3 separate regions of the Homo sapiens genome follow, and all the other regions are linked to region 2. The links come from fine-mapping of genetic effects on gene expression. A gene starts in region 2. Each other region holds a variant in brackets. All regions are shown on one strand. Distances are from middle to middle.

The links. PIP is the estimated chance that this variant, and not a neighbour inherited with it, causes the effect.
Region 1: its variant is the best candidate, but not a certain one, in a credible set for the expression of INPP4A in whole blood (INTERVAL, PIP 0.70).
Region 3: its variant is the best candidate, but not a certain one, in a credible set for the expression of INPP4A in whole blood (TOPMed, PIP 0.76).

What each region holds. Positions count from the first base shown.
Region 1 is chr2:98,464,037-98,468,376 of GRCh38, forward strand. The region is part of intron 1 of INPP4A (inositol polyphosphate-4-phosphatase type I A); the gene reads left to right. Among named protein-coding and RNA genes, the nearest start is that of INPP4A, 21 kb to the left of the region's middle. RefSeq lists enhancers at 1-9, 1,260-1,399, 1,410-1,719, 1,818-2,382. The variant C/T (reference allele first, on the strand shown) is at 1,860.
Region 2 is chr2:98,442,309-98,446,648 of GRCh38, forward strand. It overlaps INPP4A (inositol polyphosphate-4-phosphatase type I A), which reads left to right and starts at 2,550. Exons shown (of 25, transcript NM_001134225.2): 1 at 2,550-2,777. RefSeq lists a silencer at 2,380-3,019.
Region 3 is chr2:98,546,425-98,550,424 of GRCh38, forward strand. INPP4A (inositol polyphosphate-4-phosphatase type I A) reads left to right here. Exons shown (of 25, transcript NM_001134225.2): 13 at 162-270. Among named protein-coding and RNA genes, the nearest start is that of COA5, 60 kb to the right of the region's middle. RefSeq lists an enhancer at 2,651-2,740. The variant A/G (reference allele first, on the strand shown) is at 1,721.

The DNA.
Region 1 (4,340 bases), 22 kb after region 2:
GCTGTTTTTAGGAAGTGAATAGGCTTCTTCTTTTTCTTCATTTTTTCTTTAAGATACTCTTGAGGTTTTGAGGCTCCACCCTGAGCTCTTTGTGGCTGAGGGCTGCTGTGGCTTGATGAAGGGGACAGTCTTCAAATCTTGCACAGGCTGGGGAAGGTTGGGACAGCACAGCCCTGAGTCTCGAACAAAATGGGGCAGAGGGGAGGGCAGGAGAGCCGTCAGATTCATGGGGCCACATCCTCGCAGCAACCCAGGGGAAGCTGAGGCCCCAGGGTCTGCATGATGGAGGCCGAGCACGACGGAGGAAGTGGAATTATTGCACATGGTGGGTTTCGACACTTGGGACTCGCTCCTCAAAGAGGAAAATCGAGAGTGGGGGTGCACAGAGCAAGGGCTGAAGAAACAAAAAGCAGGGGGTTTAGGGGAGAGATAAACCTCTTTGCATGAGTCAAGCTGAAAAGCAGTTTGGAAGGTCAAGTGCTAGCCAGTGTCTTTTTTTGCCTGCCCAGCCTCTTCTTCTGCCATGTCTGCCCTGACAGGGGCAGAGTTCTCAGTTCCCATGTCAGAACTCGGCACCAGCTTCTCTGTTGACAGTTGCAAGGCCTGTGGCTGAGAGAAGTACTTGTGCTGTGTTTCTGCAAGGTAAGATGGCCCTGATCACAGCTCATGATGCCTGAGATCAGGAGGGTCTGCTCCATGAGATATCAGCAGAGGCCATCCTGTGAAATATTTTAACTAATTGAACTGAATGTTGAAGACAAGGCCTGTGGCAGTGTTGTATTTATATGTGACAAGCCGAGAGTCCTTGGACAACCTTGGAAACTCCTTTTTAGGACAGAATCAACTGAGACGATACACACGAAGGAGCTTTTGTGAGCAGAGTACAGAGCTCGTTATTGCAGTACAAGGTTGTAGGTTTTCACACAGCTTTTGAGGATGGGTTGGTGGCCCAGGGAGGATGTCAGGAACTGTCCTTCACTAATGGGGATTCTCGAGTTCCTACCACGTGCCAGATAGCGTGCTGATTGCTTTGTATCCACTTCCCTTTTAATCCCTTGTATTAGCTTCCTGTGGTTGCTGTAACAAACTCGGTGGCTTAAAGCGAAAGGAACTTATTCTCTCACTGTTCTGGCCTCCAGAATCACTGGGCTGAATCAAGCTGTGGGCAAGGCCATGTTCCCTCCAGTAGCTTAGGGCGGAATCCATTCTGTGGCTGCTGGCTTGCCTCGGCTGCCGGCCCCTTCCTCATCTTCACACCAGCAGGGTAACATCTTCTCTCCGTGACTCCGCTTCTCTCTGCTTCTGTCACACGGCCCTCTCTTCTCTCCGAAATCTCCTGCCTTCATATAAGGACATTTGTGATGGCATTTGGGGCCTACCAGTGTAATCTAGGATAATCTCATCTCAAGATTCGAAACTTAATTGAGTCTGCAAATCCTTTGCTGTATAAGGTAACATTAATAGGTTCCAAGGATTTGAACGTGAACCTCTTTTGCAGGGGGCATTATTTGACCTGCCATACCTCACAGCAGCCTGATGAGGACCATACTGTCCCACATACAGTGGGCTTAATGAGGAAGCTGAGGCTTGGGGAGGCCTAGGGGTGGCCATGGTCCTTTCCTCTCCCAGACTCTGGGGTAGCTGACTCTGGGGTCATTTTGTCATGTTGCTGGGCACTCACTTGGTGAACAGATAATCCCCTGTCATTTTACTATGTTGTTACATGGGTTTGAAAAAAGAGTTTTTCAACTCTCTGGCTGAGCCCCTGTTCCTGTGAGGGCCTGTGGTTTTTCCTCCCGGCTCCACCCTGGTTTCGGCGCAGTACTTGAGCAGACGGTGGCTTGGGTCTCACTCTAGCG[C/T]CCTCCCCCTTCCTCTCTGGCTGTGTGCCCAGGCTGGCCCTGCCCACCTTGCTCAGTCTCTGCTCCATCTGCCACAAGTCTCACTCCAGCCCTCCCCCCAGTAGCTTAGGAAGGGACCTTCTTGTTACGTTTTTTGTTTTGTTTTGTTTTTTGTTTTTTTGTTTTTTTGAGATGGAGTCTCACTCTGTTGCCCAGGCTGGAATGCAGTGGCGTGATCTCTGCTCACTGCAACCTCTGTCTCCTGGATTCAAGCGATTCTCCTGCCTCAGCCTCTTGAGTAGCTGGGACTACAGGCGTACGCCACCATGCACAGCTAATTTTTGTATTTTTAATAGAGATGGGGTTTCACCATGTTGGCCAGGTTGGTCTTGAACTCTTGACCTCAAGCAATCTGCCCGCCTTGGCCTTCCAAAGTGCTGGGATTACAGGCGTGAGCCACCGTGCCCGGCCTTGTTATGTTTTTTAAGCTAACCCTGTAGAGCACTCACTGTGCACCAGCACCTGTTGGCTCAAGGGGGTGACAGACATTCCCTATCACAGATTACAATGAGTCACCGGCATTTTTGGAATTTCACTAAGCGTCGTTGCTGTGCTGTGCCTCAGCATGCAGCACTTCATTTAATCCTCTGGACACCTTGAATGATAAGTGTCTGTCATCCCATTTTACCCGTGAGAGAATTGCGGCTCAGAGAAGTTGTCACCCAGCTGGTTGGTGGCAGAGGTTTCAGAGGTCTTTCTGTGCATAAAACCCTCACTTATGGTTATGCCAGGTAGGCCTTGGAGGGGATAGACCCATCGCCAAACTCACAGGAGAGAGAGGAGGGCACTCACAGGTGATGATGTCTATCTGTCTTCTTTCTGGTGGGGACCCAGAGTTTTATTTCCATCTCGTTTTCTTTATGAATGCTTGTCTCACACTTATGTATTTTTTGGGCAGTCCCTGAATAACTACACCAGGCTTCTGAATGCCGAGTTTCTTAGAGTAGCCGGGAAAGGGCCTTTTTCTTTTCCTCTTGGATGTTCTCTTAGTCTGTTTTGTGCTGCTATAAAAGAATACCTGAGGCTGGGTAGTTTTTAAAGAAAAGAGGTTTACTTGGCTCACAATTCTGATGGCTGGAAGGTTCAAGACTGGACATCTGCATCTGGTGAGGCCTCAGGCTGCTTCTACTCGTGGTGGAAGGTGAAGGGGAGCTGTCGTGTGCTGAGCTCACATGGCGAGAGAGGAAGGAAGGGAGCGGGTGGTGGTGGTGGTGTCCCAGGCTCTTTTCACAGCCAGCTCTTGTGGGAACCAACGGAGTGAGAACTCACGCACCCTCAAAGCGGGGGGTGGTTGGGGGAGGGCATTAATGTATACATGAGGGATCTGCCCCCATGACCCAAATACTTCCCATTAGGCCCCACTTCTGACATTCGGGATTAAATTTCAGTGTGGAGTTTGGAGGGGACAAACATTGTCCTCTTGTGCCTGTGCCACACTTGCCCCTCCGTCCCCCTCATCTGCTGATGATTCATCACACTGTTAACTTGGTCTCTACATCTGTTTAAACGCTTTCTCCTTTCCCCTATTATGTTGCTGTTAAGACTGTGAAGCTGTCAGCAATGTTAGCGACACCGTCCACATGTGGGGACAACAGGTCCAGTGAACCTAGCATCATCAGTGTCCTTTGCCCTTGGAACTGAGTGGAAATTATCTTCTCAGCCTCCATGGATTTAACTTCTGTGTTCTTGATGTGAAGCTTCTTTTCCTTAAGTTAGAGTTTTTGCATATACATCCCACACATACACTTGCATTTGATTTTCTTGTCTGTATATGCACACACAACACACACTTGATTTTCTTGCACCATAATAACGTTTTTCTGATTTTAAATTAGAAAAGGACAAATGAGTTGAATAGTTATCTATTAGTTATAGATAATTATCTATTATCTAATTATTATCTAGTTCTCTATTTAATAGTTATCTATTAGTTATTAACTGTCTAATAGTTATTTATTTCTTGGGAACTTAAGTACCAACTTAGTGGTAATTTTACATGAAATGAAATGTTCTCTGGGTTCCAGATAACTTATAAATGGGCTTTTAGAGTACAGCCTGTTGGTTGAACAGGCCGTAAGTTCAGCCTCATCTTTGTCGAGTTCCACAACTAAGTTTTACAATTATTTATGAATGATAGTGCTTAGCATACTTTCCAACTCAGTGAGACCATGAACTAATTGAATTTGTAATAACCCTGAGTAAATCTTAGTGGACTAATAGTAAAACTTTGAGGTTTTACAGTAAGAAAGTGAGATCCTTAGATATACCAATTTTAATGTCTCAGTAAAGAAAACAATTTTATTGATTGATTGATTGATTGAGACAGGGTCTTGCTCTGTTGTCTAGTCTGGAGTACAGCCATGTAATCATAGCTCATTGCAGCCTTGAACTCCTGGACTTAAGTGATCCTCCCACCTCAGGGTTCTGAGTAGTTGGGAGTAC
Region 2 (4,340 bases):
AGGGAAGATATAGCATGATATTGTAAACCAAAAGGTGTCTGAGACAGATCTGTCAATTTAGAGGTTTATTTTGCCAAGGTTGAGGATGCAACTGGGAAAATGAGGCACAAACTACAGTAGGATCAGTAGGATCTGTGGCCTATGCTTTTTCCCAAGAGGGTTTTGGGGACTTCAATACTTAAAGAGGAAAAAGTGGGCAGGAGGGGAAAGAAGAACAGTGAATTATGCATTTTTACATAAGGTAAGTAAACAGAGAGTAGAGGAAGAGGTCAAATATGCATTTGTCTTGGGGTGGGTGGAAGGATGATTCCTCCGCTTGTCTTTGTCCCATTCCTGTGACGATAAGCTGTTAATTTACATTGTCAGGGTGAGGGAGGCCACCTGGGGAGATATGTGGCCTTCTATCTTGCAGCTATCTCTTTAGGAACAAAAGGAAGGCAGTTTTTTTTGCATGATTCAGTTCCCAAGCTTAGCTTTTCCCTTTGGAGTAGTGAGTTTGGGGGTCCCGAGATTTTATTTTCCTTTTACAGTATTAACTAACACATGGCTCCCTTTTCTCTTGATAATTTTCATTCTACGGTGGAATTAGGGCCTCATTCTTTGCCACACTGAAAATGTGATTGATCTTTGAAGATTATCCAGAATTACATAACAGTCAAGTGACAGATGTTATTGGAAGCTGATCCTCATTCAGTGTTACTGTACTAAATGAATGAATACTGAAATTAGACTGATATCTATTTTTAAATCTTTATAAATTTAATTTTTTTTTCTTTTTTAAAAGTTAGTGTTTAACAACTTTCTTAGCTTGATTATGACTGCCAGGCGTGGTGGCTCACGCCTGTAATTCCAGCACCTTGGGAGGCCGAGGCGGGTGGATCACCTGAGGTCAGGAGTTCAAGACCAGCCTGACCAACATGGAGAAACCCTGTCTCTACTAAAAATACAAATTTAGCCAGGGTGGTGGCACATGCCTGTAATCCCAGCTACTTGGGAGGCTGAGGCAGGAGAATTGCTTGAACCTGGGAGGCAGAGGTTGCGGTGAGCCGAGATCGCGCCATTGCATTCCAGCCTAGGCAAAAAGAGCGAAACTCCATCCCAAAAATAAATAAATAAACAGCATGGCCATAAAATTTATTGTTTGAACAGGAATACATTTGAGAGTGAAAGAGGGCCCTATTAATAATTTTGCTGCAAAAAGATGTAAACTGGGGCTGTTCCAAGCAAACTAATTGGTCACAGTAATTAAAAAAAATGCAAAAATATTTTTGCATTTCTACAAATTTGATTTTCTTGGCTTTAACTTTGTACTGTGGAGTCAAGGTTCTGTCAATATTTCTTTCCATTTAGCTGGAGAAATAATAAGAGGGAACTGTTTTATTACTAAGTTACTTTTCAGAAGAGAAATAAAATAAAAAGTAAAGAAATAAAAATTTAAAACTAGGACATTTTCTTTTTCTTTTTTCTTTTCTTTTCTTTTCTTTTTTTTTTTTTTTTTTTTAGAGATACAGGGTGTTGCTCTGTCTCCCAGGCTGACACTGCAGCCTCAAATTCCTCTGCTCAATCGATGCTCCTGCCTCAGGCTCCCCAAAAAACTCGTTTTATATTTGTTTATTTTTATTCCAGACTATTGTCTGTATTTTGGTGACATGAGGAGGATCAGACATAATTCTAAATGAGTTCAGAGAATTCTTAATTTCCATTCCTAACTGGTTAATCTCTTTTGTTTTTGAAGCAAATTATATGTTTAAATGCTCTGCCTGAGAAGTATTCTGGTTTATTGAATTAAAATCATTTTAAGAATTTTTTTTTCGGATAAAATGTGAAGACTCAAAGATAAGGATACATTCAGTCCAGTATTTGCCCTTGCTCAAGGAGAAATGCTGTTTTAAAGTCAAAGTGAAAATTTTCTTCCAAAACTTCTGATTATTGTTTTTGTCTATGGAAAAATAGAAACTTGGGGCAAAGTGTAAGGACTGATGCTGTTGCAAGTCTGTTAGTGCACACTTATGCACACAGGCCAGAACAGGTCCGGAAGGACATACACTTAGAGGTTAGCAATTTTCTTTTTTTTGCAAGTCTGTATTTTCAAAGAATTAAGATTTTAATTTTTTGCTTGTCTGGTTGGAATGTTCAGTTTCCTAAACATCTCCTGGGGAGTGAGTACGTCTGCACTTCAGGAAGTGCTCTTGTCCGGAGGGCAAAAGGTTGGGGGCGCATCCCCGGGTCGCGGCTCCTCCAGGAAACTTTCCCTTGGGGATCCGTCAGGGCCTCAGATGCCTCAGTGGATGACAGGGTGAAGATGCCATCGCTCAGTCAAGTCCAGAAGTTCAAGAACTCCTTGCAGGTGAAGCAGTCACAGGATAGGGTGGGATCTTGTGGGAACCTAGCAGTAGGAATTGGCGCGAGCAGCTCGGTCACCGGCCCTACTGTCTCAGAGGGCGGACCCAGCTCGGGCTGGTAGTGGGGCGGGGGTCGCAGGGCGCGGGCCGGGCCCTCAGCGCGCATGCGCGACAAGGGGGCGGGGCCAGGGCGGGGCTGCGCCCGGCGTCTAGAGCGGCGGCGGCTGGCTAGGGCTGCGGCGCGCGTGGAGGGTTCGCTGCTGGTTTGCCGCCGGGTCGGGCTCCGTGGGCCGGGGCAGGAGGACCAGCACCTGAGGCCGGGCCCGCAGCCCGCGACTTCACAGCCAGGCGGCGGCGCTGCTGCTGCTGCGGGGCTCTGGCGCGCAGCCCGGCGGGACAGCGGGGCGGCTGGCGCCGGGGGCCGGGGAGCGCCAGGTAGGTGGGCCGGGCCGGGCAGGAGGCGACGCGGCCGCCGCGGGGGCCGGGGCCGGGGACGGACAGCGGGCGCGGGGGCGCGTCCAGGTCCCCGCTGGGGCGGATGTGGACGGCGCCCGCGGTTTTCATGGAAATTGCACTGCCTAACGGTGCCAGTGGTCCACCTGCGGTGGCGTCTTTTGAGAACAATCCGAGCCCGGCCGACCCCCAGCCCCGTGAAGACGCGGCCGCCCCAGCAGGGAGCCGGGTGCCGAGCGGGCGCGTGGCCGCGGGACGCAGACGCGGTGCCTGCCCGATGCGGCTCCAGGGCTGGGTCTACGGGCTCCTGAAGCTGGAGGCCTTGCCGTGTTTGGGGTGGAAACATAACCGGGTGAAAGTAAACATGCATCTCCGTGTGGGAAATCTGGTCTCCATCCTCGAAACTCTTCCATTTTCTGCCTGCCTTTAGACCCCGACAACATTTCTAGCATCTTTGCTTTCTATATTTTATTTCTCTCTGGCTTTGCTAGTCAATTAATTGAGGCCTGAGAAATGTGCAGGGATCTGTGGCTGTCTCTTGAAAAGCCAGCCAGGAATGGGTAGGCCCCAGAAGACAGACGTTCAAAATGTCAGAGGTAAATTTGTGTCTTTGTGGGCGAAGGAAGGGAATGTTGATGGTCTCGCTTCCCTTCCCCTGTCGCCTGCCCTCTGACATTACATAATGATGGGTTCTTCCTGCCCCGAGTTCATCCGTAATGACAGACCATGAAAATGTTCCTCTGGGTAAGAAAGACCTATATGTGGTAGAGCCCATCTTCTCTTTTGCTTTGCCACTGAATGTGTCTTGTGTTGGGAACCTGCCTAAGAGTGGAATTTGATTTGTCGCCTGCCCCTCAGGGCATTTAAACCAAGGGAATGGGGGTGGGGTGGCGATTTGGGTGTTGCAGAGAAATTCTGACTGGTCCATCTGTTCACAGTGGGTTGTGTGGACCATGGGGAAGCCAGTGGGGTTGAGGACAGAGTGGGTTGACTTCGGTGTGAATCATGGTTCTGCCGCTTGCTGACTCTGGTTCTTATCTCTAAAAGGTGAGAGCAGAGCCTTTTTTGCTGAGTTTGTTTTGGAATCTAGCTGCTGTTGGCGTTGGCCAGTGCACGTAGAATTGCTTGCTATAGGTTGTCCTAGAATTGAGCCTAATTTTTCTTTGGTTGAAAAACACACTTTCTTTAACGGAAATTTTGTTTTTGGATCTAGGCTAGGGCATTTGTTTTGGGGGTTCTTTGCTGAAGTGTCGACTGCTAATGTACTGTTTTCTTTGAAGAAAGATGAATGATGGGGCCCATGTAAGAAGGGCAGTGTGGTTGGTCTGTTGCAGGAGTGGTGCCAGGAGGCCGTGATGCTGTCTGTCCCAGGGGTGGCGTTGCATGTGAACGGGCCTCTCGGTGCCTCATTCCCTGTGATGTCTAGTAAACACGCCTGTGAAGCCAGAGCTGCTTGGTAGAGTTTGGCTTGAAGAAAAGGCTTAAAGAAATGGATGTGGACAAATTCAAAGAGAAAGAAACATTGTGTTTCTACTGAGCTCCTTA
Region 3 (4,000 bases), 100 kb after region 2:
AGCAGACCCTTGGGCAGCCAGGGCTGTGGGATCAGGGGAACCAAAGGCTGTACAGCAGTGGGCTGGAGGGTCAGGACCCCAGACTTGTGTGCATATCCCTATAGCTGGCTTGTCCACAGGCCTGAGCCCAGAGTAATGGAGGAGAGCTTTCTGTCATTCAGATCAGAACTACGACATCGTCACCATTGGGGCGCCAGCAGCACACTGCCAAGGTTTTAAGTCAGGAGGTCTCCGCAAAAAGCTGCACAAATTTGAAGAGACCAAGAAACAGTAAGTAGCCAGAGAGGGTTTGTGGTCCTTGTACAGCTTTCTGATGCTTCTTTTCTCAGTTTAAAATAAAATCAAAATATGACCGCAAAAACACCCAGCCATCTGATCTGCTTTTGCGTGGCAGGAGGATCTGCCTTATGGAGCCTGTGCTGCTCTGTTTATGTGTGACTGAGCTGGGTGGGTGATGAGGGCACTGGATCAATGGTCCTGTCCTGCAAAATGAGGAGCAGATTGTGATCCACCTCAGAAGTGGTGCTCCAGGCAACCGCCCTATGTAGACTCTGCTGGCTTGGCATCCTTTAGAGTCCCTGGCCAGTCAGTTGAGCACCATAGGCATCGAGCCTGGAGCATGTTGTTTCCTAGAGGACAGCAGTGGTAAACATTCCCAGTTTTTGAAACATTCAGGGGGCTGTACAGAGCTACTGTCCTGAGCAGGAAATTTCCAGGTAGGGAGGGTGGTGAAGGGCATTTCAGACAAAGACATGGCAGAAGCATTGCACATGGTGAAATGTGGCCAGGTGCACAGTGCTGGGGGCGGAGAGCTAAGAGGACTGGCCTTGCTGCCAGCCTGCTCTGTGACCAGAGTTACAGCCCCCAGCAGATCTAGGCCTGGTTCCAGGAGCTCAGGGCCTTGCCTGGGAGTAGACAAGTCAGCAAGCACCATTTGGCATGAACAGGGCCTGAAACAAGCATGCTGAGGATGCTGGGGTGCATGGAGCAGGGCATCCACCCAGCCCCCAGGGGTGGGAGGGAGAGAGCCAGAAATAAACCCAAGCTGTTGTGTTAGATGTGCAGGAGGCATTGATGATCTTCCAGAACATCACCTGTGAAGATTTCAGTGGCTCAGGAAGTGGGGGTGATGAGTGTAGATGACCAGTAAGATCCTTGGACTGTGACCACAAAGTAGAGGAAGTAGCATGAGGTGTTTGGTTTAGGGAGAATAATTATGACTTAGCATGTGTTTGGGCTGATAGGAAAGACAGAAGTGGATGAGGTAAGGTGAATGAGAGGAAAACAGTGTTAGAGCCGGGTTCTCACAGGATGGAAAGAGGCAAGAGCAGGTGTTCATCAGAAGGGCCAGGAGAAGAGGTGGGGCTGCAGAGAGATGTTTGAGGTGGGAAGGAACAAGCAGAAGCATCCGTCGACAGCCTCTGCAGCATGTGGGCTGGGGAGGGTCAGACTCAGCAAGCAAGCATGGAACAGCGTGAGGGAAGGTGAGCAAAGGCCCAGGGAGCGTCACAAGAATCCCATGGATGGTCAGGTGAAGAGCTCTGGCATGTGCCATGGAGCTGGTGGTTGGCACCTGACTGTGCTGCCATGGCTGGGAGTCAGGACGTGATCTGAGAAAACTGAAAGAGGTGAAAGGTCAGATCAGTGGCTGAGGGGGTCAGGGAGGCAGCTAGGGGCGTCACTGATCATGGGCAAGGCTGAGCAGGGAACGGAAGAGCGT[A/G]CCCTGTGAGAAGTCACCATTCAGATACGTGCACAGGCTGCCTGGGTGGGCCCAGAGCCCGGTGAGTCCCGGAGGGAGGAGAAACAGGGAAGGGGAATTCAGGCCCCCAGACAACCTACTTGACTTTGATTCATTCCCAGGGGTGCTTCCCTAAGACAAACCAGGTAACCAGACCTGTCTTAGGATTTGCTGACTCCAGGTCCCTTTGGGAAATAGGAAGAAGACGCAGCTTCCTGTGCCACCGCAGCTCTGCACAGCCAGCCAGAAAGCGTGTCTGTCGCTCCATTGCATGTTGCCCTGTGGAGAGTGTGAGCGTGCAGCTTGAGATGGGGTGGGGCCCTGAAGGAGAACCCATAGTAACTCTGGCCAGTCAAGAAGGGGGCCTTCTGGGGGTCTTTGTCCCAGGAGGCTTGGGGTGTTGATTCCTGATAACTCTGCATGTTAACTTTAGAATTTATTTCTCAAAATACCTCTTAGTATTTTTCAAATATATAAGTTTCTATTTAATTTCTCACTAATGCCATCAAGCCACTTATAGATATGGTATTCATGATTTGAACTTTCCTTTAAATGCGGAGGTAACTTGGCCTGAGGTGGGATGTCTCCCTGGGGCTTGAGCACAGGGAGTGACGCTGCTCTAAGGAATAAGCACATTGGGCTCATGATTGTAGTCATCCCTGTAGTTGGGACCTCAACAAATAATTTTAAGTATTTTGACAAAAAATAAGTTGGCTTTTTAATTTTTTGTTTTTGCATTTGGTATTTGCTAACAAACTGCTAATATTTCATTTTGGTTCTTTTCTTTAGCAGTTTTGAGGAGTGTTGGTGAGTTTTCTGTCTGTGGAGAGAGTGTCTGTTTGGGTCTCGTCCTCATGCAGAGAAAGCTTGTGCCATCCCCACACCTCCTCCTGTGGGCTTCCCCTGCGGTGCTGCCATGGTTCCTAGTTATACACCTCATAAACAGTCCTCCCTTCCAACTGCAATGTTCTTTAATAATGAATAGCCAATCTTCAGTCTGCTGTTTTACCTTTAAAACCTGGCAGCTGGGTGTTGTCGTACTCACTCTGAGAAAGGACCTAGTTCTGTTTCTCCCAGGAAGAGGAAGGGCCCGACCCAGGAAGCCCCTGGGTGCTGGGTTCTCATGTCAGCCCCTGGGTGCAGCTGGGAACTCCTGTCTTCTTATACAGGAGTCTTGTGGCTTTTCAGTTTTCACTTCACTATTACCTCTTATACAAATGAAGCCAGCCTACATCTTCATGATGCTTATTAATTTATGCTGATTTTAATAACACTGTTACCAAGGTCAGTTTTACCCCTGGGGGTGGGTACAAACCAAGATTTAATACAACTGAGTGACTTTTTCCACCAGATAATTAGATGACAGTTAGAAACCACGGTGTCTGCTGCCTGGGCTTCTCTACTGCTTCCCCAGGCTCATAACAGAGGCTCTGCAGTGGTGCTTCATTCAGAGGCACCTGCAGCCCCTCAAGAAATGCTGCTGCCTCAGAGCCTGTGACCCATGGGGCTCAGGGGCTATGGCTGGGCCCTGCTGGAGGTGTCAGGCTCTGCTGGTGGCATCTGACAGGAGGAAGCACTGAGGACATTCCCCGATGTCCAGGCTGAGGCCTCTCAACTTCCCCCTGGGGGTCCTTTTCCCTGGGGGTACTTTAGGTACAAGGGAGGGAGGAGGGCATCTAGGGACGGTTGCTGCTGCTCCTGCCTCCTTAATGGAGCAGACCCATGCTACTTCTGTGGAAGTGGCCTCTCAGCCTCCCCTCCCTGCCTTTTCTCTACTGGGGACTCTTTCAAGGCCTGATCTTTCCCATAACGGGACAAGTAAAGTACTTAGGGGTTGAGTCTAGCGGGGCAGAGGAAGAGGAATGGGAGGGGAGAGGCCTTTGGCTTTACCAAGGAGCTGCCCCCAAGGCCTGCTCCTTGGTAAATCCCAACCCAGGTGTTTTGGGTTGAACCTTGTTCCTGGGGAACTTTCTGCGTTCCTGGGTTCCCTCTGAGGACCCTCCATAGCCCAATCTGGGCCTGGTCACCCCTTGCCGTCTCCCCCCTGCTCCCCATATACAAGACTGTCCCTGAAGCAGGGAGGGGATGGAGCGGGGAGGGTTACAGGCAGAAGGAGTGTCCCTGCCTGGAGACTGTGAGGGGCTAAATCCCAGGCAGAGAGGACCCAGCCTCCCAATCCTCCTACCCTTGCAGAACCCAGCTCCATGGGGGCTCAGCCTCTGCAGAGGTGATCCTGCTCTTCTAATGTCCAGAGTGACTGTT